4 linked regions of the Homo sapiens genome follow. The protein of the gene in region 1 interacts with the protein of each later gene in a pairwise test. Each region holds a gene or a part of one and is shown in the gene's direction. Other genes may lie near its edges.

What was found.
Region 2: the proteins of PLN (region 1) and MGST2 interact in binary tests that used the Homo sapiens proteins (3 or more experiments, as listed by UniProt).
Region 3: the proteins of PLN (region 1) and SIT1 interact in binary tests that used the Homo sapiens proteins (3 or more experiments, as listed by UniProt).
Region 4: the proteins of PLN (region 1) and LDLRAD1 interact in binary tests that used the Homo sapiens proteins (3 or more experiments, as listed by UniProt).

What each region holds. Positions count from the first base shown.
Region 1 is NC_000006.12:118,551,262-118,558,295, forward strand, and holds part of PLN (phospholamban), read left to right. Parts: intron 1-7,034. UniProt on the Homo sapiens protein: Reversibly inhibits the activity of ATP2A2/SERCA2 in cardiac sarcoplasmic reticulum by decreasing the apparent affinity of the ATPase for Ca(2+).
Region 2 is NC_000004.12:139,661,170-139,668,826, forward strand, and holds the start of MGST2 (microsomal glutathione S-transferase 2), read left to right. Parts: upstream 1-4,649; 5' UTR 4,650-4,850; coding exon 4,851-4,908; intron 4,909-7,657. UniProt on the Homo sapiens protein: Catalyzes several different glutathione-dependent reactions. Catalyzes the glutathione-dependent reduction of lipid hydroperoxides, such as 5-HPETE.
Region 3 is NC_000009.12:35,648,795-35,655,636, reverse strand, and holds SIT1 (signaling threshold-regulating transmembrane adapter 1 precursor), read left to right. Parts: upstream 1-4,705; 5' UTR 4,706-4,783; coding exon 4,784-4,883; intron 4,884-4,999; coding exon 5,000-5,135; intron 5,136-5,221; coding exon 5,222-5,280; intron 5,281-5,391; coding exon 5,392-5,453; intron 5,454-5,555; coding exon 5,556-5,789; 3' UTR 5,790-6,342; downstream 6,343-6,842. UniProt on the Homo sapiens protein: Negatively regulates TCR (T-cell antigen receptor)-mediated signaling in T-cells. Involved in positive selection of T-cells.
Region 4 is NC_000001.11:54,015,187-54,022,135, reverse strand, and holds the start of LDLRAD1 (low-density lipoprotein receptor class A domain-containing protein 1), read left to right. Parts: upstream 1-3,949; 5' UTR 3,950-3,959; coding exon of another isoform or gene 3,960-4,023; coding exon 4,024-4,044; intron 4,045-4,708; coding exon 4,709-4,760; intron 4,761-6,949.

The sequences.
Region 1 (7,034 bases):
GTCAACTGAGGACCTCTAGTGCCTTTGAAAAGGTACTCCATCTTTAGTTTTCAACCCCCAACCCCCGCACAAAAAAAAAGGTTGACTAACTCACTCACATTAATAGGGGGTATATTTATTAAGTGGCATTCATTTTAAATCCTTAAGACTTTCTCAATACTACCTCCCCATATTCTCTTCCCCCAGAAAAGATTCTGAATTTCCAACTCCTACAGGGTTAAGAAGAATATTTTACTTGTAAATACACTTGTAAAGCATTGTTTCAATATTTAAAAAACAATAATGAAGGCAAACCTACAGACAATATAGCAACAGCAATAAGCTAAATTGTCAGTTTTAGAGAGAAAAATATCTCTGTGCTGTTGTTTAATGAATTCTCCTCAAGACAGAGCTTTAACATGAGAAGCACTTCATTATGGGTCAATTTAGGAATGAGAATATATTGATTTTTATGCATATACAATTATTTTCATAACCAGACAGAAGCAGCTTGAAGATTCTTTCAAACAGCCAGTCTGGACCAACAAAGCTCTGGAATGTTGCTACCACAAAGTAACTTCAAATAGAATGTCCAAGTTTAGTATTAGGCAATCTCAAAAGGAAAATGACTCCACTGGAGTGAACTTTTGTAAGCCAACAGATTCATCGTAAATCTAATGATGAACTGTCCTAATTTATTACCACAAGTCCAAAAAAGGGTATATGCACATTCACTTATGGCTTATCAGTGGAAATGTCAGAAAGTAGTAGAAAAATAAAATTCCAAACAATCCAAATATAGACAAGTCCTGTTTATTCAATCTATAGAAAATTCTAATCTTCTAAACCAATTAGATGGAAAAAACATCCTAGAGTATATCAGACTGTAGCCTTAGATATTACTTGAATTCAATTTAATAAAGTATTTCTTCAGTACTCCCATGTTTACTAAAAGAATAAACAAAATTAAAAGGAGAAAAGCAAAATTCTAAATTCTACAAACATAAAGAATCCCAGGAATTTATTATTTCAGCAAAAGGAATACCACCAAAAATACTGAAGTTTGAGAAGTTCTGCAAGAAGTGAACATACTTAAAGTATAGATGGAGATTAATGCTCAGCATATACAACATCATTAAAGTATCAATTGTCTAGCAAGTCATAAAGCAGGCCACCAAAAGTTTTCAGAAGACTATTGAGGTTCCTTCCGCACAAGAATGCATCTGATATTACATTGCTAAAACAGGACTCACTGCAGACAAAGTAAGGACTCCTGAAGGAGTTGATATATAGTAGCTTCCACCAAACATGTTGCCTAACATGGTATATGACATTAGTCAAAAGATTAGAGTTGCCTAATGGCTTTTCTATTTCCTTCTTCCACCTCAAAAAAAAAACCAGAATACCATCTTGAACTTGATTTTTTTTTTAATTTCCAGCGTTACTTTTCTTGAGGAAAGGACGACAACCAAAGGATTTATAAATCCCACAAAGAATAGTAAAGAATTCTTTATTTTTATTCTTCTCATTCCCCTAAAAAGTAGAGTAATCATGGATCCACAGACATAAGATACTCTGTGGATACTTTCCTGCCTCTGACATGTAACTCAAGAGACAGGAGTCTGGCATTTCTACACCCAAACTCCTAACAAGCACCTTTCATGTTTTCAATACTCTTGATTCTAGGGCCTAGAAGACAATTTGATTTTAAAATTCATCTATAAATGAATACCACTCTTGTGTCAAAACAACCAATTTATATATATTGTCATTCTTTTAATAAAAGGGTGGAGAGCAGCTTCAGTTTCCATGGTTGTTTAGGCCATATACAAGTTCAGAAAATCCCAAAACTATTTATGATTAGACTAACAGAATGCTCTAAAAAGATCAGATAACATGAAAATAAAACTAAACTATTTTTGTATGCTTTCCATCGAAAAAGTACTCTATTAAACAGCTTAGCTGTTAAGAAATTAAAAAAAAAAAAAAAAAGGAAACTCATACAGTGGTTGTCAGTGCAGAGAAGAGAATGATAAACATCTGACAACCATGCCATAAATTATAATGTAGTAAAGGTCACAGACAACTCCAAAAATAGGATTCTGCTGTTCCCACAACAAAGGTTTTCAATTCTCAATGTATGACAGGAAGCCCCATCTTCTATGGATAAAATCTGGCCTAATTATCATCATACAAATGTTGGTATTCAGTAGAACTAGGATTCCACACATTTCAGATGATAACTGTAAAAAATTGAGCCCAATAAATTAAATGTATATCATTAACATTTTAGCGTGTAAAGCAGATTTAAGTTTAGGCATAAAATCATAAAGTAGTTACAAATAACTTTAGGATTATGGCATATTTCTAAATCTGACAAGAAACAGGATACTATTTTTGGTCATCTCCTTTACACCCAATTTGTTTCCAGAAACAAACTCTTCTTTTTCAATAACAGTTAGCTGTTGTAGGATTATAAGATCATCTTTAAAGTATGTTAACTATGCTTTAAACAGTAAAGAGCTCATCTCTTTAGGGCATATCTCTGTATTTCACAAATACTAAAAACCCATTTATACAAAGCCTAGTTCAGGTTAATACTGTGTTAATCAGGTAACCATTAATTTAGGTGAATCCTCTAAGCCTCATTTTTCTCACCTGTGATAGAAAGAGACTTGAGGAAAATATTAGAGCTTACATGTCCAACTAACAAATTGTTATTAGAACTAGTTAATCTGTCAATCACAGCATTATTTTTAAAATTGTTTAACTTATTATTAAAAATGAGGGCCAGGCATGGTCATTCACACTTGTAATCCCAGGAATTACCTGAGCTCAGGAGTTTGAGACCAGCCTGTGCAGCACAGTGAAACCCTGTCCCTACCAAAAATACAAAAATTAGCCAGGCATGGTGGCGCACACCTGTGGTCTCAGCTACTCAGGAGGCTGAGGCAGGGAGATCGCTAGAGCCTGGGAAGTTGAGGTGCAGTGAGCCACGATTGCACAACTGCACTCCAGCCTGGGTGACAGAGCAAGACCCTGTCAGTCATTCATTCATCCATTCATAAAAACAATTAATTAATTAAAAATGAGATGGGGTCTCATTATGTTGCCCAAGCTGGTCTCGAACTCCTGGGCTCAAACATTCGTCCCGCCTAGGCCTTCCAAAGTGTTGGAATTATAGATGTGAGCCACCATGCCCTGCCCACAGCATTATTTTTAATTAACAATTTTCTAATAGTTTTAGTCATAAAAATCCCTTATTTAACTTTAGTGATTTATTGAAGCATACCAATTATGCACTAAGTACTAGGATACTAAATAAACACACAGTTTCTTTACTTCAGAAACTATCAGTCTAGCTGGGGATACAAACATGTAAATTGAAATTGTGCTATAATCTGACAGATATCCTCATATAGATAACACTAAAGCCCTATTAAAAACCAGTAGAGGTGACAACCAATTCCACCTTAATAACTAATGAAAGGTTTCACTAGGAAGTGATATTTAAACTGAACCTTAAGAATCAACTGAAGCTTGCATGGCAGACAATCAAAAGGTGGAGAACACATTCCAGGCAGAGATAGAACAACATGTGCAAAGAACAAAATCACAAAAGGGAATGGAGTATTTATGGAAAGGTGACATGTTTCATGTGACTGAAGTACAACTTACCAGTGTCAACGTAGGGGATGACTCCTGTATATGCTTCATGATAAACTCCTGGCCAACTCCCTCCTTTCCCATGTTTTGTCTCAAAATAATTTTTAAAATTTCTGACCTTTTAAGACCACTTAAGCCCAAAAACCTCACAAAACCATATGTTCAAATAGGAATTACCAAGTCTAATTATTATTCCTTTCTTAACTGTATTCTGCTACACATCTTCATAAAAGGTGACTACTCGGCCAGGTGCAGTGGCTCACGCCTGCAATCCCAGCACTTTGGGAGGCCGAGGCGGGTGGATCACGAGGTCGGGAGATCGAGACCATCCTGGCTAACATGGTGAAACCCCGTCTCTACTAAAAACACAAAAAAATTAGGCATGGTGGCGGGCACCTGTAGTCCCAGCTACTCGGGAGGCTAAGGCAGGAGAATGGCGTGAACCCGGGAGGTGGAGCTTGCAGTGAGCCGAGATCGTGCCACTGCACTCCAGCCTGGGCAACACAGCAAGACTGTCTCAAAAAAAAAAAAAAAAAGTGACTACTCAAATATAAATAAAATCTTCCCATAATTTTCCAATCCACTAGATCTACAATAAGCAAATATCAACATAAGCAAATATCAACATAAGCAACTTAAAGGATGAATCTCAATAAAGAACAAAAGAAAATCTATTTATATTTTACCTGAAGAATTCAAACAAAAGTCATTAAATATATGTCAAGTTTAAGCTGCTATGTCCCTTATTTTTAACTTTTGTTTTAAGTTTGGGGGTATGTGTGAAGGTTTGTTACACAGGTAAACACATGTCATGGGGAGCTTGTTGTATGTATTACTTCATCATCCCGTTATTAAGCCCAGTACCCAACAGTTTTCTGCTCCTCTGCCTCCTCCCATCCTCCCCGCTCAAGTAGACCCCAGCGTCTGTTGTTTCCTTCTTTGTGTTCATAAGTTCTTATCATCTTGCTCCCACCTGTAAGTGAGAACCTGTGGTATTTGGTTTTCTTTTCCTATGTTAGTTTGCTAGGGATAATGACCTCCAGCTCCATCCATGTTCCCGCAAAAGACATGATATCATTCTTTTTTATGGCTGCATAGTATTGCATGGTGTATATGTACCACATTTTCTTTATCCAGTCTGTCACTGATGAGCACTTAGGCCGGTTCATGTCTTTGCTATTGTGAATAGTGCTGCAATGAATATTCATGGGTGTATGTCTTTACGGCAGAAAGATTTACACTCCTCTGGATATATACCCAGTAATGGGATTGTTGGGTCGAATGGTAGTTCTGCTTTTATAAGCTGCTATTTTCTAAGTAGAAGTGTTATAGACAACCTAAATAACAGCCTTTAGCCACCTGTTTAGACAATGAAGAATATATGCTAGAAAAATACAGGTAGTTAATAACTCTTTAAGGAAAGAAAATTTGATAGAAGTTGAGTGTTTGGAACTCCTTGCTACAGACCAATATTATGAAGGGGGACAGAGTCTCAAGCCAAAAATGCCCAGTCTACTATATAATTCAGAATATAATAGACCCAAGTTGAACACTACAGAATCTAAACACCATAAACCATATGGTTTCTTTGCCAAAGTAAATGCCGGGTTCTAACTAGTCATGCCTGATACTTACCTTCCCCTTTGCCATTCTTTCAGCACTTCCTTCTGCTCCCTTCAGCACTTTCCTCTCTCAGGAATGGGCTAACAGGTTGAGATGGGCTTTTATGGGATGTATAAAAGGACTTAGGAGAAAATAAAATCTGACACCTGGGGTAAGGTAGTAATATGTTGATTAACAATAATATATCAACAAATGTTAACAGTCACTATGTCTGGCAGTTAATTACTGACTTTTTTTCTCCGTTTTTCATTTTTCTTATTTCAAAATTGACACATAAGTATACTGATTGAAAACAAAATGTCCCCAAGTGTTAATAACGATTATCTCTGGACAGTTAATACAGTTAATTTTCAGTCTATATATAATTTTTCTGTAATGACATGTAAATTCTTATTTTATTAATCATCAAAGTATAGGCCCCACAGGCAGCAATAGCTTGTGGGATCTCTGAAAGAAGGCATGATGGAAACTACTACTATTAAGTAGAAGTCTGTAAATAGGATATGTCTGTGGTAGTGAGATAATAATAATTACTATGTGTTCCAAGCTTGACAGTCTTCAGTACTTAACATCAAATCTTATTAAAATGTTACTTAAGATAACATTCTATAAAACTATAAAATCATAAAAAGGAATAACAATTTGAATCTATATTTTTGGTAAAACACTTCCCATTTAACACTATTTTATTTTAGATTAAAATTAAGATCCAGGGAACAATTTGTTGTATGCATTTCCTTTTTATGAGATTGGCTCTGGAGCTATTAATACAGTGACTGATCAAACCAATTACATCTACAGAGTAACAGATTTAAAGAAACTATATGTTAGAACTTTTACCCAAAAGAATAACCCAAAACAAGCTGTACCTTAAACCAAATACAGCAGGTCCTCAAATAACATCATTTCTATGTCATTTTGTTATAACATTTAAGTATGTGTGGGGCTTGCATATTCTCCCCACATCTGTGGGACTCTGGTTTCCTCCCATATCCCAAAACAGTGCACATTAGGTTCACTGGCATGTTTAAGTTGTCCTGGGTTGAGTGTGAGTGTGTACATGAGTGTATCCTGTGATGGAGTGGCCTCCTATCCAAGGTGGGTTCCTCCCTCCTTGAGCTGCTGGGATTGGCTCCAGCCACCAGCACCCCAAACCAGAATAAGAGGGTTGAAAAATGAATGAATGGATGAATACAAATTATTATCGAATAAAAATTGGTAAAGTCTACGGTGATCATACAAATGCATGACAATAAACGCTATGGCACAAAAGCACTCAGAGATCCCACCGTATTTGAATTGTTTTTGATCTGCATGGAGCTGGATGTGCTCCTGACAATTTTCATTTCTCAAACATGATTCCATGTTTTTAATAGACCACCACAACCACTGTTACTCACTGATTCACCAAATACTGGGTAATTATCTTTGTTGGCTTTTTTTTTTTTTTCCTGGGACAGAGTTTTGCTCTGTCACCCAGGCTGGAGTACAGTGGCATGATCTGGGCTCAATGCAACCCCTGCCTCCTGGGCTCCAGCGATCCTCCCAAGTAGCTAGGATTACAGGCACATGCCACCAGCCTAGCTAATTTTTATATTTTTAGTAGAGACAGGGTTTCACCATGTTGGCCAGGCTGGTCTCAAACTCCTGACCTCAGGGGAACTGCCCGCCTTGGCCTCCCAAAGTGCTGGGATTACAGGCATGAGCCACTGCACCTGGCCTATCTGGTTTTTATTAATCTTTCTTAAATGTATACATAGTTCATA
Region 2 (7,657 bases), on another chromosome or scaffold:
CTTTGCTTAAAAACTTACTGTGTTAAAGCCACTATTAAACCCAGCTACTCAGGAGACTGAGGTGGGAGGGTTGCTTGAACCCTGGAAGTTGAGGCTGCAGTGAGCCATGATCATGTCACTGCACTCCAGCCAGGGTGATAGAGTAAGACCCTGTCTCAAAACAAAACAAAACACAGAAAAACTGCTGTGTAGTTACAAGATTCTTCAACTAGTCAGGACTTCTAGCAAGATAATGTAATGAACTCTGGGTACATGGAGAGTTATGTGGTCATTGATAATCATGATCACTCTGATAGTTCCTGGGAAAGAGGTGTATTTTCTGTCTCTTTCTGCTACCTGGCCTGATGGCAGTGAGGACAGCCCTGCTGTAGTGCTCAGCAGAAACCTGGATGATGTGCTGTCAATTTTGGAAGGGTAGCAAGTGAACAGAGAGGGTGAGACCAGGGAATAATTTGCGGGGGTTGCAATTGGTTTGAGGAAAAACCTTTTTTTTTTTTTTTTTTTTTTTTTGAGATGGAGACAGAGCTTGGCAGAGCAAGCTCTGTCACCCAGGCTGGAGTGTTGTAGCGCATTCTCGGCTCACTGCAACTTCCACCTCTTGGGTTCAAGTGATTCTCATGTCTCAGCCTCCCCAGTAGCTGGGATTACAGATGTGCACCATCATGCCTGGCTAATTTTTGTATTTTTAGTAGAGATGGGGTTTCACCATGTTGGCTAGGCTGGTCTTGAACTCCTGACCTCAGGTGATCCACCCACCTTGGCCTCCCAAAGTTCTGGGATTACAAGTGTGAGCCACCATGCCCGGCTGAGGAAAAACATTTCTATAGTTTAATATATCATTTCTTTTCATCTATTACCAAAATTATACTGAAAGAGTTACATTTAGAGTTCACATTTCATGAAAGCAGTTCTTTTACATGGTTCAGGTTTGTTTTTATGTGATCAAATCTTGGCCTCTCTGTTTCACCTTACCTAGAGTATAGTTTTGGTAACAGTGATTCAGTAGTAACCAAAGTCCTCAGAAAGTCTTTTAGGTTTCTTTTGAGTTTACATAGATAATAAAAATATTTTAAAAACATTTTACTATCATTACTGTCTTATTCCATTTTGTTGCTATAACAGAATACCACACACTGGGTAATTTATAAAGAAAAGAAATTTATTTCTCACAGTTCTGGAGGTTAGGAGGTTTAATATCAAGGTGCTGGCATCTGGTAAGGACCTTTGTGCTATGTCATCCCAAAGCGGGGGGGCAAGAGAGGGCCAAGCTCACATTTATAACAATCCACTCCTATAACAACATTAATCCATTCATGGGAGCAGAGCTCTCATGGCCTAATCACCCCTTATTGTCCTACCTCTTAATACCATTATAATGGAAGTTAAATTTTAACATGAGTTTTGGAGGGGACAAACATTCAGACCATAGCAATTACCAGTATGCTGTTTGTCCTCTTATTTTCCTTTTCATAGAAAAATGTAATAAATGGAACATACTAGAAGGATCTATGGGAACAACATTCAGGGAAAATGCCATTCCTCTTCAACCAATCCAGGGAAAACGTACAGAGAAACTCTAATTTTTGTGAGTTTTTGTTAATGCTATGGCAGTATTTCAGCTGTGGGTCACCTGGAAATTTTATCACTGCAGAAGGTGATAAACATTTCATTATACAATGCTCTATTCTTTTATACTTTCCTAGAGGCAATAACTACATATACCGACAATGAAGATCTTTTTAAATAGACACGTGGGGTTTTGAAGCACTTGAGATTTTATTGATTAATTGATTTTTTATTTTTTTACTTTGTGTCAACCATCTCTTAGAATCTGGATTTGGGGGACTGACTTAAGATTGGCTGGGAGAAGTCAGTAGGGAACCTCAGGATTTGTCCAGAAGCTGGGAAGTTTCATTTTTTTTTTTTTTTTGAGACGAAGTCTCGCTCTGTCACCCAGGCTGGAGTGCAGTGGCACGATCTCAGCTCACTGCAAGCTCCGCTTTCGAGGTTCACGCCATTCTCCTGCCTCAGCCTCCCGAGTAGCTGGGACTACAGGCGCCCGCCAACACGCCCGGCTAATTTTTTTGTATTTTTAGTAGAGACGGGGTTTCACCGTGTTAGCCAGGATGGTCTGGAACTCCCAACCTCGGGTGATTCGCCCACCTCGGCCTCCCAAAGTGTGGGATTACAGGCGTGAGCCACCACGCCCGGCCGGAAGTTGTAGATTTTAAACCAGTTGACTAGTACAGGTGTACCCAAGAGTTTCTCAAAATAAGAGTTACCAACACCCAAAAGTTACAGTCATCAGCCAGGGCCACAATTCTCTGCTCAGCTCCTCCTGCTGTTGTTCCTCTCTTCCCGAGCCGTTCTCTGACTTTGAGAGCCTCTGCCTGTCCCCAGGCCTAATGTAGACCTCTCCTTCGAGATCTGTCATTTGGGAGGTTATTATAGTAGATGGTGATATGGGTTCAGGGCAGCTAGTTTGCAGTTTAGAATCTCTGCCATGTACTGAAGCCCAAAACTATTAAACTGAGTATACAAGAATGTTTTGGTGCTGCCCCAGCTTCTTGGCTCTACTTTCTTATCTAATCTTAGTTGTCAATGATTTCAAGAGCAAACAGCCAAGGAAGCCTGAAGACCAACAGAAACTTTGAGCAGACCTGGCTTGCAACTATTTATAAATTAATTTTGTTATTCCTTCTTTCCTGTATATGTGTAGTTCCATGAATTCTACTTTGAACTGGTTATAACATCTTACTGGTTCCCTCATGAATGAGTTACATAAAAATTTTGATATGTTTTCATTTTATGTTGTATGAAAGGCATGATTTTTGCCTCTGAAAGTATTTTTTAACATTAGGTACATTATATGCTAAGTACTTGTCTAGATACTTTATGTGTTTATTTTGCAGACACACAGAACACATTTGTATATGCCAGGTGCTGTTTTAAGTGCTCTATAAGTATTAACTAATTCAATCCTTAGAATAGGATTATGTCATTTAAACTTCTCTTCAGCTCTTATTAGCCCTATCTTATTAAATGGAGGCTCAGAGAGGCCCAAGGTTGTGTTATTAAATTGTAGGGTCTGTGTGAGGCTGAGGCAACTGCCCTCCCCAGAAGACACTGGGAGCTCCCTGCTAGGGACTAAATGTTTGTGTCCCCTCTGCAATTCATATGTTGAGACCCTAACCCCCAACGTGATGTTATCAGGCATTTGGCAGATAATTAGCTACAGGTGAGGTTATGAGCATAGGCCCCCATAATGGGATCTGTGCCCTTATAAGAAGTGACCAGGAAGCTTACTCTTTCTCTGTCTCCAACATGAAGGTGTCCTTCTGCAAACCAGGAAGAGGGCCCTCACCAGGAACTGATTGGCCAGCACTGTCATCTTGGACTTCCCAGCCTTCAGGACTGTGACGAATAAATTGCTATTGTAAGCCACCCAGTCTATGGTATCTTTGTTATAGCAGCTTGAGCCAAGATATACCCTCTAATGGTGCTGTAGGATGGGGTGAGGAAAGGCCCCCAGCTCTGGTTTTTGGGAAGCTGCATCTTTATTTTTATTATTTGTTTGAGACAGGGTCTCACTTTGTCACCCAGGCTGAAGTGCAGTGGAACGACCTTGGCTCACTGCAGTCTCAGGCTCCTGGGTTCAAGCAATCCCCTTGCCTCAGCCCCCTAAGTAGCTGGGACTACAGGCACGTGCCACCATGCCCTGCTAATTTTTGTATTTCTTTAAGAGATGGGGTTTTGCCATGTTACCCAGGCTGGTCTCGAACTCCTGAGCTCAAACCATCTGCCCATTTCAGCCTCCCAAACTGTTGGGATTACAGGCATGAGCCATCCTTCCAGGCCAGAATCTGCATCTCTAAAGAGCAGATTCTCCTGCCTCAGCCTCCTGCGTAGCTGGGACTACAGGTTCGTGCCACCATGCCCAGCTGATTTTTTGTATTTTTAGTAGAGAAGGGGTTTTACTGTGTTAGCCAGGATAGTCTTGATCTCCTGACCTCGTGATTCACCCTCCTTGGCCTCTTAAAGTGCTGGGATTACAAGTGTGAGCCATCGCGCCCGGCCGGTTTATTTTTTTAAAAATGGCTGGGCACAGTGACTTGTGGCTGTAGTTCTAGCTACTTGGGAGGCTGAGGCAGGAGGATTACTTAAGCCCAAGAGTTGGAGGCTGCAGTGAGCTATGATCGTGCCACCACACACTCCAGCCTGGGTGACAGATCAAGACCCTGTCTTAAAAAAAAAAAGTATGATTATTATCAGAGTCTCTAGGTGACAGTGAGAGGCAGCCTGGTGCAGGGGATAGGGCACAGTTGTAATCTGCTAGACTGGGTTCAAATCCTAAATCGGCCATTCAGAGCGTGAATACATTAGAACTGGCTTAAATTAGCATTTAAAATGTCAACAGGATTAAGTAAGTAGTTCCTTCTCACTTTTTCCACAGGAGGTGAGAAAGGTCTCAGCAAGGCCCTAGGAGGGAAGGGCGTGGGGATGAAAGGGATCCAGAGAGTCTGTGCATTGGCAGAGAAGATAGTGTAACTGGCACTGCGGCTGGAGGGCTGGTCCCACAGTGAGCTACAGCCCTGCCCGCTGGCCGTGGGAGAGGCTTAAAACAAACGCCGGAAGCAACTCCCAGCCCCATAAAGATCTGTGACCGGCAGCCCCAGACCTGCCTGCCTTCCTGACTTCTGTTCCAGAGCAAAGGTCATTCAGCCGCTTGAATCAGCCTTTTCCCCCCACCCGGTCCCCAACTTTGTTTACCCGATAAGGAAGGTCAGCATTCAAAGTCAAGAAGCGCCATTTATCTTCCCGTGCGCTCTACAAATAGTTCCGTGAGAAAGATGGCCGGGAACTCGATCCTGCTGGCTGCTGTCTCTATTCTCTCGGCCTGTCAGCAAAGTAAGAGGCATGGGAAGTTCGTGTGTGTGCGCGTGTGTGCGTGTGTGTGTGTGTGTGACAAGGCTTGCGGGAGAGAGAGGGAGGGAGGGAGATGGGTCCGGTGTTTTGTTTCCTACTTGCCCTTGCAGGTAGCTCTGGGTCCTCAGAGCACAGTCGCCTCAGGGTCACCCATGCCGCCTGCTACCCTCCTTCCCAGGGGCAAGCAGAGACTGAGAACATTCCAGAGATTAGTTCTCCCAACTGGAACGCTGTGGGGCCTCAGAGCTCAGCGATTCTGCATCATCTGTGATTACGACCCACAGCCCGTTCAAACGAGCGTTAGTAGCCTGCTAACCTGCAGGAAGTGGTGTGAATATTAATTACAAGTGTTCCAAAGGAAACGTGCCTGCTTCTAAACCTGGTTGTGATTTCTTGAACGTTGATGTTTTAATTAATGTGTTTTCTTAAATAAACTGCCTATGGTGGTATGATTATCAGATTGAAAAAAACTTCCTTCAGAAATATTAGCTTTAGATTAAGTAATTAGCTCTAAATTTTAAAACAGCTTCCCACTAGGATTATTCAATATCTCGACTGCCTGGTTAAATAGAGGGCTTTTACTCCATGGGAGTCACATTTGCTCAATTCATATTATCTTACCTACAATGTCAGCTGGGGAAAGGGGTCCGAGTGCAAGAGTGCAAGACTTCTTACCAAGCATGCATATTTCTTTATATTTCCAAGTATGCCTGTACCAGGAAATAGGGCCAAGCCGTAGACTGCTCAGGTTACACAAACAGCCAGAAGCAGGAAGGCCTCACAGCTGAGGATCCAGTCCAGGCCTCCGTGCATGCTCAATGTCTTGCCTAGCCAGTCTGTTTTGAGATTGTATGAAGATCTTGAACCTTCAGACTCACGTTTTGTGGTTTGATTCACACAATCTGTTGTGGAGAAGAGCAGGATATTTGTTTCTAATTAAAGAAGCACTTAGATCTGTTAAAAGGAAAACCCTAGACAAATTACATTTAACTGAGTTTAATTGAGCAAAGAACGATTCACAGTTGGGCATGGGGAACCGGAATAGGTTCAGAGAGACTCTGGGGCTGCCACGTGGTAGAAGAAGATTTATGGACAGAAAAAGGAAAGCGACTCCCAGAAAACGGAAGCATATAGTTCACGATGTACGGAGAAACCTTTAGGCTGAACTTAAAATATGTCAGAAGGCAGCTTTAGGCTAAACCTAATTTAGCAGGTCTAAGGCTCACTGTTGGTAGCATCCTGACTCACAGGTGCTACCAAACCTGCATGCGCCTTTATCCTAGGCCTGCAGGTCCACAGATGTCCCAAAGCTGACAGAGGTGCTCATCCTCCCTGTTTGCTGCTTGTGCAGGGGGCTGTGTGAACTGGGGCCAGAATGTTAGGGGGCTGGATGGAGTGGGGGTAGGGGTGGGGAGAGAGGAGAGGAGACTGGGTGAATGATGATTAATGGTGGACAGGGAATGTTTAATGACAAGGTGTTAGGGCCGGGCACGGTGGCTCACCCCTGTAATCCGAGTACTTTGGGAGGCCAAGGCAGGTGGATCACGAGGTCAAGAGATCGAGACCATCCTGGCCAACATGGTGAAACTCCGTCTCTACTTAAAATACACAAATTTGCTGGACATGGTGGCACGCTCCTGTAGTCCCAGCTACTAGGGAGGCTGAGGCAGGAGAATCGCTTGAACCTGGGAGGGGGAGGTTGCAGTGGACTGAGATCACAGCACTACACTCCAGCCTGGCAACAGAGCGAGACTCCATCTCAAAGAAAAAAAAAAGATGTTGATGAAGAGTTGAACTTTGTAAAATAATTGAAAAGCTGTATTCTGAGCCAAACATGAGGGACGAGTGGCCGGTGACACAGCCCAAGGAGATTCTAAGAACATCTGCCCAAAGGGGTCTGGCTACAGATTGGTTTTATACATTTTAGGGAGACATAAGACATCAACCAATTCATGTAAGATGTACATTAGTTTGGTCCCAAAAGGCGGGACAACTGGAAGTGGGGCATGGGCTTCCAGGTCATAGGTGGATTTAAAGATTTTCTGATTGGCAATTGATTAAAAGAGTTTATCTACAGACCTCAAATCCATAGAAGGGAGTGCCTGGGTTAAGATAAGGGGTTGTGGAGGCCAAGGTTCTTACTATGCAAATGAAGCTTCCAGGTAGCAGCGTTTGGAGAGAATAGATTGTAAATGTTTCTTATGAGACTTGAAAAGGTGCCAGACTCTGTTAATTCTCTCCTGGATCAGAGAAAAGACCTGGCAAGGGAAAGGGATTTTCTACAGAATGTAGACTTTCCCCACAAGAGACAACTTTGCAGGACCATTTCAAAATATGACAAAGAAATATATTTTAGGGTAAAATACTTCAATTTCTTTCAAGGCCTGCTATCTGTCATGTGATGCTATACTGGAGTCAGGCTGGAATTTGGTGTCTTATTTCTACAAAAAGTCTTAAGTGTTAGATTTTTTAAAGGGAAGGTGGGGTTCAAGAAAGACACAGAGAGAGAGAGAGAGAGAGGAGGGGGAGGGGGTAGAGGGGGAGAGGGAGAGAGAGAGAGGCTTTACAACAACACAGGTTTATTACAAAAACCTGTGGAGGTGGGGGACCAGCTTAATGCCAGAGCCCGCCATTGCTTACAGGCTGGGGTATGTACAGGTATGGGCAGGAGGGTTTTGGGCAGTATGGCTTGCTGCCCTGGAGGATATTGATAAGATGTTCTTATGTTCAG
Region 3 (6,842 bases), on another chromosome or scaffold:
TGTGGTGGCCAGCACCTGTAATCCCAGCTATTCAGGAGGCCGAGGCATAAGAATAGCTTCAACCTGGGAGGCGGAGGTTGCAGTGAACAGAGATCGCGCCACTGCACTCCAGCCTCAGTGTCAGAGCAAGACTCCATCTCTAAATAAATAAATAAATAAATAAATAAATAAATAAATAAATGAAATATGGGTGTGTCTTCTTGTTTTTCCTGAAAGGAGGAGGAAGGGCAGGACAGGGAGAAACCCTCACCAAGGGGAGTTATCATAGTGTAGTTCAAGGGTCCCCAACACTATTGGTCCATGGCCTGTTAGGAACTGGGCCGCACAGCAGGAGGTGAGCAGCGGAGGAGCAAGGGTGAGCGGCGGAGTAGCGAGGGAAGCTTCATCTGTATATACAGCCACTCTCCATCCTGGCATTACCGCCTGAGCTCTGTCTCCTGTCAGATCAGTGCAGTGTTAGATTCTCATAGGGCCACGAACCCTATTGTGAATTGTGCATGCACGTGATGTTGTGGGCTCCTTATGAAAATCTAGGCCAGGTGCAGTGGCTGATGCCTGTAATCCCAGCACTTTGGGAAGCCAAGGTGGGTGGATCTCTTGAGGCCAGGAGTTCAAGACCAGCCTGGACAATATGGTTAAAAAAAAAAAAAAGTCTCTAATAAAAATACAAAAATTAGCTGCGCATGGTGGCGCATGCCTGTAATCCTAGCTACTTGGGAGGCTGAGGCATAAGAATTGCTTGAACCCAGGAGGCGAGGTTGCAGTGAGCCAAGATTGCACCACTGCACTCCAGCCTGGGTGACAGAGCGAGACCCTGTCAAAAAAACAAAACAGAACAAAAAAACCACAATACCTGATGATCTGAGGTGGAACAGTTTTATCCCAAAACCATCCCCTCCTCCCATACTCCTGTGCATGGAAAAATTGTCTCCCACAAAACCTGTCCCTGGTGCCAAAACGGCTGGGGACCAGTGGTCTAGCTGATGACCCAGTGACAGCCTGGGTACGCAAAGCAGGGTAATAGAAATCTTGAATCTAAGCCAGTTGGCACAGTCGGTGTAAATAAGGGGTTCAGGCCAGATATAATAATGATAAGTGGTCCCCAACTGATTATTGCCTTTAGAGAACTCAGGGCACTATTGCCAGATCTTTTTTTGAAGGAATCAACAAATTAGAATTTTAAAAATTTGAAATCTCCCAATTTTTAACTGTTGACAAGGAATCAGTGGCATACTTAGCATATTTGACACCAAGTGGTCTTTGTGTGTGTGTGTGTGTGTGTGTGTGTGTGTGTGTGTGTGTGAGAGAGAGAGAGAGAGACAGGGTCTCCCTCTGCTGCCCAGTCAGGAGTGCAGTGGTGAGACCATGGCTCACTGCAGCCCCAAATTTCTTGGATCAGCCTCCTGAGTACCTGGGACTGCAGGTGCACACCACCATGCCCAGCTAATTTGTGTGTTTTTTTGTTGTTGTTTTTTGTTTGTTTGTTTGTTTGTTTTTTGTAGAGACCAGGGTATTGCCCAGGCTGGTCTTGAACTTCTGGCCTCAAGGAATCTGCCTGCCTCAGCCTCCCAAAGTACTGGGATTACAAGTGTGAGCCACCTTGCCTGTTCCGGATCATTTAAAAAACATTTTTCTTTCTTTTCTGTCTTTTTTTTTTTTTTTTTTTGAGACAAGCTCTCACTCTGTTGCCCAGGCTGGAGTGGTGCAGTGGCACAATCATGGCTTACTGCTGCCTCTATCTCCCAGGCTCAAGCAATCTTCCCACTTCAGCCTCTTAAGTAGCTGTGACTACAGGCACACATGCCCCCATGCCTCGCTAATTTTTTAATTTTTTGCAGAGATGGGAATCTCACTATGTTGGTTAGGCTGGTCTCAAACTCTTGGGCCCAAGCTATCCTCCCACCTCAGCCTCTCAAAGTGCTGTGATTACAGGTGTGAGCCATCACACCTGGCCCAAATTTTTCTTTCTTTCTTTTTTTTTTTTTTTTTGAGATGGAGTCTTGCTCTGTCGCCCAGGCTGCAGTGCAGTGGAGTGATCTTGGCTCACTGCAGCCTCCACCTCCTGGGTTTAAGCAATTCTTGTGCCTCAGCCTCCAGAGTAGCTGGGATTACAGGTACCTGCCACCATGCCCGGCTAATTTTTGTATTTTTAGTAGAGACGAGGTTTCACCATGTTGACCAGGCTGCTCTCAAACTCCTGACCTCAGGTGATCCACCCACCTCAGCATCCCAAAGTGCTGGGATTACAGGCGTGAGCCACCATGCCCAGACCCAAATTTTTCTTGTTTTCTTTCTTTTTTTGGGGGTGGGGGGCAGGGTCTCACTCTGTTGCCCAGGCTGGAGTGCAGAGGCTTGATCTTGGCTCACTGAAACCTCTACCTCCTAGGCTCAAGCAATCCTCCCACCTCAGCCTCTCGAGTAGCTGGGACCACAGGCGTGCACCATCACACCTGGCTAATTTTTTGTATTTTTGGTAAAGACGGGGTTTTGCCATGTTGCCCAAGCTGTTCTTGAACTCCTGGGCTCAAGCGATCCTCTTGCCTCACCCTCCCAACGTGCTGGAATTGCAGGCATGAGCCACCATGCCTGGAACAAAGTTTTATTTTTCAAGTGGATCATTTAAAAAAATGCTTTATGGCCAGGCACGCCACTTCTCTCCAGCCTGGGCAAGTGAGCCGAGATTGTGCCACTGCGGTCTGGTCTGAGCGACAGAGGGAGACTCCATCTCAGATAAATAAATAAATAAAATTAAAACAAATTTAAACATTCTTTATATGACAAAATTATTCTCAATGGCAATTATAAAATGAATAATAAGGGCCAAGAAATAAACTCAGTGAATATTTTCTTTCCTTGAACTTTGTAAATATAATCATGTCAGCATAAAAACAGCCATGCATTGCTTAACAACAGGGATATGTTCTGAGAAATGAGTCACTAGGCAATTTTGTCATTGTGCAAACATCATAGAGTGTATTTTCACAAACCTAGATGGTGTAGCCTATTACCCATCTAGGCTACATGGTATAGCCTGGTGCTCCTAGGCCCCAATGCTTACAGCATGTTACCATACTGAATACTGTAGGCAGTTGTAAGACAATGGTATTTGTGCATCTACTGTAGAGACAGGGTCTCTCCGTCTGTCGCCCAGGCTGGAGTGCAGTGGCATAATCATAGCTCCCTGCAGCCTCCAACTCCTGGGCTCAAGTGATCCTCCCACCTCAGTCTCCCAAGTAGCTAGGACTACACGCTTGTGTCATCAGGCCTGTCTACTGTTTTTGTTTGTTTTTTGGTAGAGATGGAGGGTCTCACTATATTGCTCAGACTGGTTTTGAACTCCTGGCCTCAAGCAATCCTCCTGCTGCCTTGGCCTCCAAAGTGCTGGTATTACAGGAATGAGCCACTGCACCTGGTCCACTACAGCAATTTAAAAGTTAGATCTGGGCTGGGCGCAGTGGCTCATGCCTGTAATTCCAGCACTTTGGGAGACCGAGGTGGGCAGGTTGCTTGAGGTCAGGAGTTGAGACCAGCCTGGCAACACAGGGAGACCTATCTCTACAAAAAATGAACTAGATTAGCTGGGTGTGGTGGCACATGCCTGTAGTCCTAGCTGCTTAGGTGGCTGAGATGGGAGGATCACTTGAGCCCGGGAGATCGTCAAGGCTGCAGTGAGCTGAGATTGTGTTACTGCACTCCAACCTGGGAGACAAAGTAAGACCCTGTCTCAAAAAAAATATAAAACTTAGATCCATAAAATATTTTTCAGGGAGGATAATTTTATCACTGATTTTTTTTTTCAGAATTTCTGGAACATGGTGATAATAAGAGGACTGATTTTTATTTTTTAAATTCTCTACAGACAATGCACCCCCTTATTGCCTGCAACTCAAGGGGCAGGACTTCTGCCATCCCTATTGTTGGCATGCCACTGCACTGATTTTAAACTTTTAAAAAATGTTGTATGGGCTAGACAAAACACATCTCTGACTTCTGGTCTCAGGTTTATATTTGCAACTTAAAATCCCTCTTCCTACATCAATAGCCTTGCACGTGATGGAGTTAGCTCTAGGTATGGCAGGTACTACACCCGCTGAAGTGAACATGTGCAAGATAGGGCTCAGTTTCCCAGGACAGTCCTACAGCAAAGAGTTTTAAAATGCAATTAATTATTGAGAGTGACAGTTCTTACAGACAGTTTGGATGAAGTGGGTTGAAAGGGGAGGTTTGGGGGTGTCCCCCAAATTATAATGCCCCCAATGAAACAATAACAAGCATCATCTAAACACATATCCTCTCAGATCAGCCTTAGGGTGTGATGGGATCAGAGGTACCAGGAGGCTCCCCCGACCCTTCCACTTTATACCATACTCATTGAGGAATACATCTTTCTTCTGGGACCAGAGTCAGGGAGGAAGGTGGGCATCCTGGAGCAGAAGGGGTGTTCCTGTCCTTGTTAGTCCTGCTTCACACCACTTCTGCCCCCACCCCCCGCCCTCAGAGTCCTCAGGGACTCAACTGCCCGTGGCACATTACCCACAGGCCTGCTTCTCTTCTCAAGGGGGGCAAAGGGCCTGGGCAGCGAGGGTGGGGGAAGCTCAGGAGCTGCAGGAGTGGCGCAGGTGCAGGCACAGGGCGGGGTCTTTGTTCTTTTTTTCATCCCTCCCCTCCCCCTTCCTCCCCGGAAACCAGAGACTTTGCCACCACCAGTATTGGGGATGCTGAGCTGCGGGGTACGGGCCTGAGGAGGGATGGGAGTAAGAAGTGCTGTGGAAACCGTCAGGCCATGAACCAGGCTGACCCTCGGCTCAGAGCAGTGTGCTTGTGGACTCTCACATCTGCAGCCATGAGCAGAGGCGACAACTGCACGGATCTACTCGCACTGGGTGAGCTGGGCAGGGCAGGGGCTGGTGGGGGAGGGGTCATGTGGCCCCAGGTCCCACCTGCTGGGCCCTGGGGGTGGGGCGGGGCTGTTACACCCCCCTTCCTTTCACATCCACAGGAATCCCCTCCATAACCCAGGCCTGGGGACTGTGGGTCCTCTTAGGGGCTGTGACGCTGCTATTTCTCATCTCGCTGGCTGCACACTTGTCCCAGTGGACCAGGGGCCGGAGCAGGAGCCATCCGGGGCAGGGACGGTGGGTGAAGGACAACAGGGATGGGTTGACTGAGAGTTCTCTCTTACCGAGAAGTCCCCACTCATCCCCTAAACTCTGCGTTGCAGCTCTGGAGAGTCTGTGGAAGAGGTCCCGCTGTATGGGAACCTGCATTATCTACAGACAGGTAGGGAGCTGGCAGAGAGGAGGGGCACAGAGGCCAGGTCCTGGGTGGCTGGGATGGGGGCGTGCAGGAGGAAGGACAAGTTGCTGACCAGATTCCTGTTCCCCGTCCCAGGACGGCTGTCTCAAGACCCAGAGCCAGACCAGCAGGATCCAACTCTTGGAGGCCCTGCCAGGGTGAGTCAACTGTGGCTGGAGAAAAGGGGGAGGGAAGGAAGTGGGGGGCTTTTCGGGCTTTTCCGAGGGTCCAGTGAACTTCTAACAGCCTTGCATCTCCAGGCTGCAGAGGAGGTGATGTGCTATACCAGCCTGCAGCTGCGGCCTCCTCAGGGTCGGATCCCCGGTCCTGGAACCCCCGTCAAGTACTCGGAGGTGGTGCTGGACTCTGAGCCAAAGTCCCAGGCCTCGGGCCCCGAGCCGGAGCTCTATGCCTCAGTATGTGCCCAGACCCGCAGGGCCCGGGCCTCCTTCCCGGATCAGGCCTATGCCAACAGCCAGCCTGCAGCCAGCTGAGATGGAGGGCCTGGCACAGCGGGGCGTGCACTGCCCCAGCCCCCCGTAGCAGGGGCATGACTGTTTCCCAACCAGCACCCAAAGACGGGCGCCATTGCCAAGTCACAGGATGTGATCTACCCCGGACTTCCTATCTGAGCTTCAAGGGAGACATCTCAGGGCAAAGCTTTCGTGATGGAGGAGGCAAAGACAGTAGCCCCCTCCTTATTTCTTTTTTCTATCTGTTCCTCTTAGCCCCCAAACTCCCAGGTTCTCACTTCCTTCTTCTGGAGTTTAACCAGATCCTCCCCACCCCCGCTCCCTCATAGTCTACCCCCACGCCTCAGTGTCTCCTCAGGCACAGGAAGTGGGCGGTGGGGGAGGGGTAAGGGCCTGACAGTGGGTGGGTGGGTATATTCCTCAGGAGTCCACAGACTGGAGTGGACCTGGAACTTAGAGACGGGAGGGACCCGAGCCTGGCTTTTGACCTAAGAACCCTAGCAGGAGAATACAGTCTCCATCCTGCTGTCTCTGTCCTGTCCCCAAGTTTTCAAATAAAACTTTCCAAAAAGTGTTTAGATTTTTACCTAGAAGGCTGAAGACTTGCAAAGGGCCCTGCAGATGGGGGTGTGAGCTTTGCTGTCTGCACGGAGCTCTTTCTGGGGGTGCCTAGCTGGGGATGAGGGGCCAAGAGGGGCTGCGGCATCAACAGTGCAGAGGTGGGCACCGGGGTGGAGGGCCAGAGCCCAGCTCCTCAGCTGCTGTTGCTGCTGCTAGAACACCCCTGGGATCTGCACTCAGAGCCACTGCATTCCCCCTGGGGCTGCAAGCTCACAGTCCTGAGCTACTCTCCCCTTGACCTCTATAACTGCCATCACCTCCACAACCTGCCAGCCTGGTTCCTTCATCAAGTCCTCCAATCTGACCTCCGTCTGTCCGCTATGAGTCCCACCTATACCCCTGTTTTGACATCAGTAGCCTTATCTGCACTTAGTCATCGTATACCCCTAGAGGCCTTCTCCTTACCCCATCACTATGGCAGCGGTCCATCTCCACTCACTCTCTCCCACTCTG
Region 4 (6,949 bases), on another chromosome or scaffold:
TCACACCTGTAATCCCAGCACTTTGGGAGGCCGAGGTGGGCAAATCACGAGGTCAGGAGATCGAGACCATCCTGGCTAACACAGTGAAACCCTGTCTCTACTAAAAATACAAAAAATTAGCCGGGCGTGGTGGCAGGCACCTGTAGTCCCAGCTACTTGGGAAGCTGAGGCAGGAGAATGGCGTGAACCCAGGAGGCAGAGATGGCAGTGAGCGGAGATCGCGCCACTGCACTCCAGCCTGGGCAACAGAGTAAGACTCTGTCTCAAAAAAAAAAAAAATTGAGGCTGCACGTGCCAATGTCCCTGAGGCCATCTGCTGCTGTGGAAGGAGTGCTCGCTGTACTGGGACACTGACCACGGTATGGCCTTGCACAAGTCCCCTCTTCTTTCCGGACTTTAGATCCCCCTTCTGTAAAGTGAGGCCGTTGTTCTCTCTGAGCCTGAGGTCCCTTTGACTCTGCTGATCAAAGTTCTGAGTTTCCCTGAGGGACTCTGGCAGCCCTGTTTTCCACTCTTTCCAATTTCCTCCTCTAACCCTCATAATATGGGCACCGCCTTAAGCTGCTGCTAGAACTCTCCATCCACCACTCACCATTCTCCCTGCTTTATTTATTTATTTATTTATTTTGAGACAGAGTCTCACTCTGTCACCCAGGCTGGAGCGCAGTGGCACGATCTCGGCTTACTGCAACCTCTGCCTTCCGTTCGTTCAAGCGATTCTCCCATTTCAGCCTCCCAAGTAGCTGGGATTACAGGCGTGGGCCACCGTGCCTGGCTAATTTTTATATTTTTAGTAGAGACAGGGTTTCACCATGTTGGCCAGGCTGGTCTCGAACTCCTGATATCAACCGATCCACCCACTTTGGCCTCCCAAAGTCCTGGGATTACAGGTGCAAGCCACAGTGCCCAGCATCTCCCTGCTTTAGAATGAGACACATCTGAGGTTAAGCAAAAGAGGACTGCAAATCCTAAAGGCGGCGAGCCACTGATGGTATTTCACAGTTGTCAGGCTGGAGGAAATCAAAAAGTCTGATGGTACTAAGTGTTGACAGAGATGTGATCAACAGAAATTCTCATCCACAAGGGAGGGAGTGTGAATCAACTCTGCTTGGAGGCAAAACTGACCTGGGTTAAAATCTCTGCTCTGCTGTTTACCCACTGTGTGGCTTTGGCAAGTTACTTAACCTCTCTGAACCCAGTTTCTGCATCTGTCTAGTGGGTGTAATAATATTACCTATCTTTCAGAGTTGTTGTGAGGATCAAGGGAGAGGGCGTGTGTAAGGTGGCTGGTGTAGTGCCTGGAGCATAGTAGCTGCTCAATAAATAATATCTGCCTCCCTTCCATCCATGCCCTCCCCTTGAGAGTGAGACTGTGAATTGCAGGGGATATGATTCCAGGAAGTTCAAGGATTGAGGCACCAGGGCCTGTCCTTCATGTCACCAGGCCCCCTGCTGCCCTTCCCTCAAGGGTTCTTGGTGACAGCCTGAGCCCTGGAGAGACGCAGTGCTTTCAGCATAGTTGTATGTGGCTGTACCTGGACTCAGCAGATGAAAGGGCATTTCAAAGCCCCGGGGAGTCTTTTTATAAAGGAACACTTAAGAATCACGGAGTCAAGGAAGGCCAGAGGCTGAAGGGCATTAATATGTCCAGGAATGGCAAATGGTCATTGTCAGGCCTCTGAGCCCAAGCTAAGCCATCATATCCCCTGTGACCTGCACGTATACATCCAGATGACCGGTTCCTGCCTTAACTGATGACACTGTCTTGTGAAATTCCTTCTCCTGGCTCATCCTGGCTCAAAAGCTCCCCTACTGAGCACCTTGTGACCCCCACTCTGCCCGCCAGAGAACAACCCCCCTTTGACTGTAATTTTCCTTTATCTACCCAAATCCTATAAAACGGCCCCACCCTTATCTCCCTTCGCTGACTCTTTTCGGACTCAGCCCACCTGCACCCAGGTGAAATAAACAGCTTTATTGCTCACATAAATCCTGTTTGGTGGTCTCTTCACACGGATGCGAGTGAAAGCCATCATGTCTGATACCCCTCTCCACTCTTACACCCATGGCAGGCATCACTAGTCAATCACAGTTCTGACCTCAGAATCCTTCTGAGGCCCATGTTCCAGAGAGCCTTTTGCAATCAATTGCAGCTGACATGCCAGATAAAATCTAGTTAGTGTCTTTAGTAGGGACCATGGGTGCCCTGCCCATGCTATCAGCGCTTTCCATTTCAGGACATATTAGCTTAGCGTGCAGCTGCTAAGTTGCCATCACTGACATCTCCTTGCCTAAGGCAGCCCAGTGGTACAAGGAATTAACACCCTCTGGCTAGTCTCTTTTTTTTTGAGACGAAGTTTCGCTCTTATTGCCCAGGCTGGAGTGCAATGGCGCAATCTTGGCTCACTGCAACTTCTGCCTCCCAGGTTCAAGCAATTCTCCTGCCTCAGCCTCCTGAGTAGCTGGGATGACAGGCGCCTGCCACCATGCCCGGCTAATTTTTTGTATTTTTAGTAAAGACGGGGTTTCACTATGTTGGCCAGGCTGGTCTTGAACTCCTGATCTCAGGTGATCCACCTGCCTCGGCCTCCCAAAGTGCTGGGATTACAGGCATGAGCCACCATGCCTGGCCTCCTCTGGCCATTCTCAACCAAGACTGGCAGGAGCTGGCAGATTATTACCCCAGTTCCCCTCACCTTGAGTGGGATAACTCTGAGGGGCATCTTCTCCCCTAGCTTCCCCGAGTGCCCCAGCAGGGCTAAATTCCACTTGCCCACAGCGGAAACCTGCTTCATAACACGACTGTTATCGGATCCTTCTCTTCCATGTCTCATTTCCCTCACCCCCCGACCAGCATTTCCTGGGATCACTCCCAATTAACTCTACTTGCCCTCAAATCTTGTCTTAGAGTCTGATTCTGGGGAACCTTAAACTAAAACACCCCCTTCATCTAGCTTATATCTTTATTTTCTGGATGAAGGAACTGAGGCGCAGGGAAGGGGAGTGAGTCACCCGTCAGAGCCAGTGGTAGGGCCCTAATGAGAGTCCTGTTCTCCCGGCCTAGGGCTCAGCTCTTCACAATGTTACTTGCTGCCTCCCAAGGGCTGCCCCTGTGTCTGTGCCTCCTACTTGCACCCACGTGGATTCATCATTTTATTTCCCAATGCAAAAGAAAAGGCTGATTGCAGGTTGGAAAATCTATGGGCATCAGAGGCAGGTGCAAGAACTCCTGAGCTCATTTCTGGAGGTAGACACCTCTCCTCCCTTGGTCCGGGTCCTTGGACCTGTCCCTCAAGATTCCAGGGCCTTGGTTTACTCAGCAGTGGGACAGGCTGCTAGGGAAACCCACTCACTGGGGACATAGAAGGGGTTGTTCACGCAAGCAACCAGCCCCCCGCCTCTTCCCTACCTCAGCACCACCTCAGGGGCAGTAAAAATTCACATTGCCACGTTTCTAAATGAAACAATTTAAAATTATATTTGCTTTATAATTTTAGTGGAAAATGCATATTCTTTCAATCTAGGTCACCTATGTAGTTGAACAGAAGAACATCAATGAGAAAATGACCCCTACTTTCTAGCCACCGAAACGTCAATTCTGGGAGTTTCTGCCTGCATCTTCATACCCCTGGAACCTGAGCTCCTCCGGTTCCATCTCTGATGTGGAGGAAAATGCACTTTCTGAAAAGTTTCTGGGTTTCACTCCTCCCATGCACTGTGAGACTTGGGGCAGTTTCTCCCTCTCTGAACCTCTGGCTCTTCATCTGTGGAATAGGGATGAGGATTCCAGCCTCGCAATGTTGCTGTCAGATGGCAGATGAGGGAATAGCCTGGCCGGAGAGGGGCCCTCCTGCCTTTGCCTCTGCTTGGAAGGCAGCTGACAGGGGCCTGCCCACAGGGAGGGTGTGGCCCGGGCAAGGCCTCCTGCTTGTCCCTCCTCCAGGTTGGCCTTGGTGACAATGCAGGGAACCCGTGCTGAGCTCTCTGCACACAGCCCCAGTCGGGCAGCAGGAAACCGAAGACATGAACAAGGTCTTCCCCCAGGTGAGAGCTGTCCCCAGGTGAGAGTTGTCTCCAAGTAAGAGCTGTCCCCAAGTGAGAGCTGTCCCCAGGTGAGAGCTGTCCCCAGGTAAGAGTTGTCTCCAAGTAAGAGCTGTCCCCAGGTAAGAGCCGCCCTGACCAGGCTCCTGATCTTGGGAGAGCAAACCTTGGGATGAGGAGTGGGCAGTAGAGAGTGGGCATACATGGGAGACACGGAGGAAAATCAGCCCCCGTCCTGCCCCGGGGCTCACTCCCAGGGTGTAGGGGACCCTACCAATGACCCAGCAATACAGTCCAGGTGGCAAGTGCTGGTATGGAAACAGAGGAGCCAGGTGGACAGGAGGGAAGAGCGGCCAGTTTTACTGGGGAGGAGGGTATCAGGGAAAGCCTCACCCAGGAGTCGCTGCCCAAGCCGGTTTGAAGGATGAATATTTATCAGGTGGACAGCAGAGAAAAAGGCTTTCCAGGCAGAGGGCACAGTGCAGGCAAAGGTGTGGACATATGAAGCGGGCATGATGCATCTGGGGCGTGAGATGCTGGGGTGTGACGGACCCGTGGTTCTACCTAAGACTCTCTCAGTGACCCCTCTGAAAACCCTGTTGTCTGCCTCCCTGAGGCTGGAGCTCACCTCACCTAAGCCCACCCCTCACTCTGTTCTCTTGGGCAGGGAGAGAATGGCTACACTGCTGCTGAATCCAAAGCCCACCCTGGAGGGGAAGGTAAAGAACTGGAGGGCCTGGGGCCAGTGCCCTGTGGGGCTCCCTTGAAGCTGGCAGTTGGCGATAGAGACATGAGGAGGGTTCAAGGCTCCCACTGTCCCTCAGACCTCTGCCTCCATGTTAACGTTGTCTGCTCCCAGCTTCCTGGCCAGCCATGCTGACAGTCACTTGCTTAATAGGGTTATTCATTCTCTCCATGCACATGCATTCATTAAGCACCTACTGTGTGCTGCCTACCTCACAGGCACCAAACTGCATACAGTGCCCACCTGTAACACAGAGAAAAGAGCACCAGCGTCAAATTCTTGACTCAGTGGGTGACCTGGGCAATTCTCTTTAACTCTGATGGATAAAGTGACACATTTATTTAGCCCTACTATGTGCCACTGGCCCATGGTGTGACCAGGACAGTCCTCTTTACCCTTCTGAAAATAGAAGAAGGAAGAAACACACATGTACTGAGCTTTGCATATGCCCTGGCTTGGCCCACATTTGATCAATGACGAAACACACTCAGAGAGGTAGATTAAAATACCAGCTATAAAGAATCCATCCCCAGTTAGGTGCCTGGCACTGCATGATCTCTTTAATCCTCAGGACAGCTCTGAGACAGGGGCCCTGTTATGGGGCAATAACAGATGAGACAGCTGAAACTAAGAGAGGTTGAGTAACCAGGCCAAGGTCACACAGCAGGGAGGTTGGAGGGCCAGGGTTCAAATGTGAACTGAGGTCTCTCTGGTTACAAAGCCCCAGGGCTTTTGTTGCTCCGAGCTGGTGTTTGTTTATTTCTAAGTCCTGACTCATGATGGGCGGGGTTGTGGAAAGAATCACCTCCTTTTCCTCATCGGTACAGGGAGAGGACTGGCACCTAAGGGCTTTCTGGCTTTGAAGTGCAACAGCTTCACCTGGGCAGGAGCCTTGGTTCTGCGGGTTCTCCCATGGCCCCACCTTGTGCATGGTCTGTGCTGCACAAATATTTGAGGAGCTGCTTGGCTGATCAGGACACCTCTCCCTGCCCAGAGTCACGCTGCCTCCCTGGTTACCTGAGTTTACCCTGTTTGCTGATGGCCAAGGAGCCACCAACTAGGGCTGTAGGGATGACAGGTTTTAGATTTATGCTGCCTCTCCTGCTATTGTCTCCCCTCCCAATACACATCCATCTTGGAGTCCCACCACCCCAGGCCATTTGTGCTCCCCCACCTGCAACCACTGGGCCTTTACTCCTGCCACGCCCTCTGCCTGGAATGCCCTCTCTTTGCACCCTCCCCTTACCTGCCTGTGGAAATCCCATTCTGCTTCTGAGGACACTGCATCAGAAATGTGAATGGATTGGAAATAACCTGGACTGACCCATACTGGGGGCCTTCTCTTGCCTCCTGGACCCCCAGGTCGGCATATTCACAGAGTGTTCACAAAGCCCCAGGCCGGTGTGGTGGCTCACACCTGTAATCCCAGCACTTCGGGAGGCCAAGGTGGGCGGATCACCTGAGGTCAGGAGTTCAAGACCAGCCTGGCCAACATGGTGAAACCCGTCTCTACTAAAAATACAAAAATTAGCCAGGCATGGTGGCGGGCGCCTGTCATCCCAGCTACTCGGGAGGCTGAGGCAGGAGAATCGCTTGAACCCAGAAGGCAGAGGTTGCAGTGAGTTGAGATCATGCAACTGCACTTCAGCCTGGGCAATAGAGCAAGACTCCGCCTCAAAAAAAAAACAAAAAAAACAAAAAAAACAAAAGCCCCCACCACGTGCCTGGCTCTGGGCTGGGCCCTGGGGTCACAGGGATGAATCACACCTGCTCCTGCCCCTTTCTCTGAGGTACCTGTGGCCTGGGCACGTCAGTAGCTCCCACACCCCTTCAGGCATGTCCATGCCTTGCCTTCTAAGTGCAATAACAAGCTGCAGAGGGCAAGGACCAGGGCAAGCTGCACAGCAGGGCACCCAGGAGGTCCTCAGTAAAGCCTTCTTTTATTATTTTGTAAGCAGGGGAGAATTAAAGGAGAATTAAAGTACAGTTCTACAAGAGCAGGGACGTCCCCTATCACTGCTATCTCCATAGTGCTTAGAATAAGGCTCGGCACATGGTAAGTCCTCAATAAGCAATAACAGGCCAGACACAGTGGTGCACGCCTGTTGTCCCAGCATTTTGGGAGGTTGAGGCAGGAGGACTGCTTGAGCCTAGGACTTATAG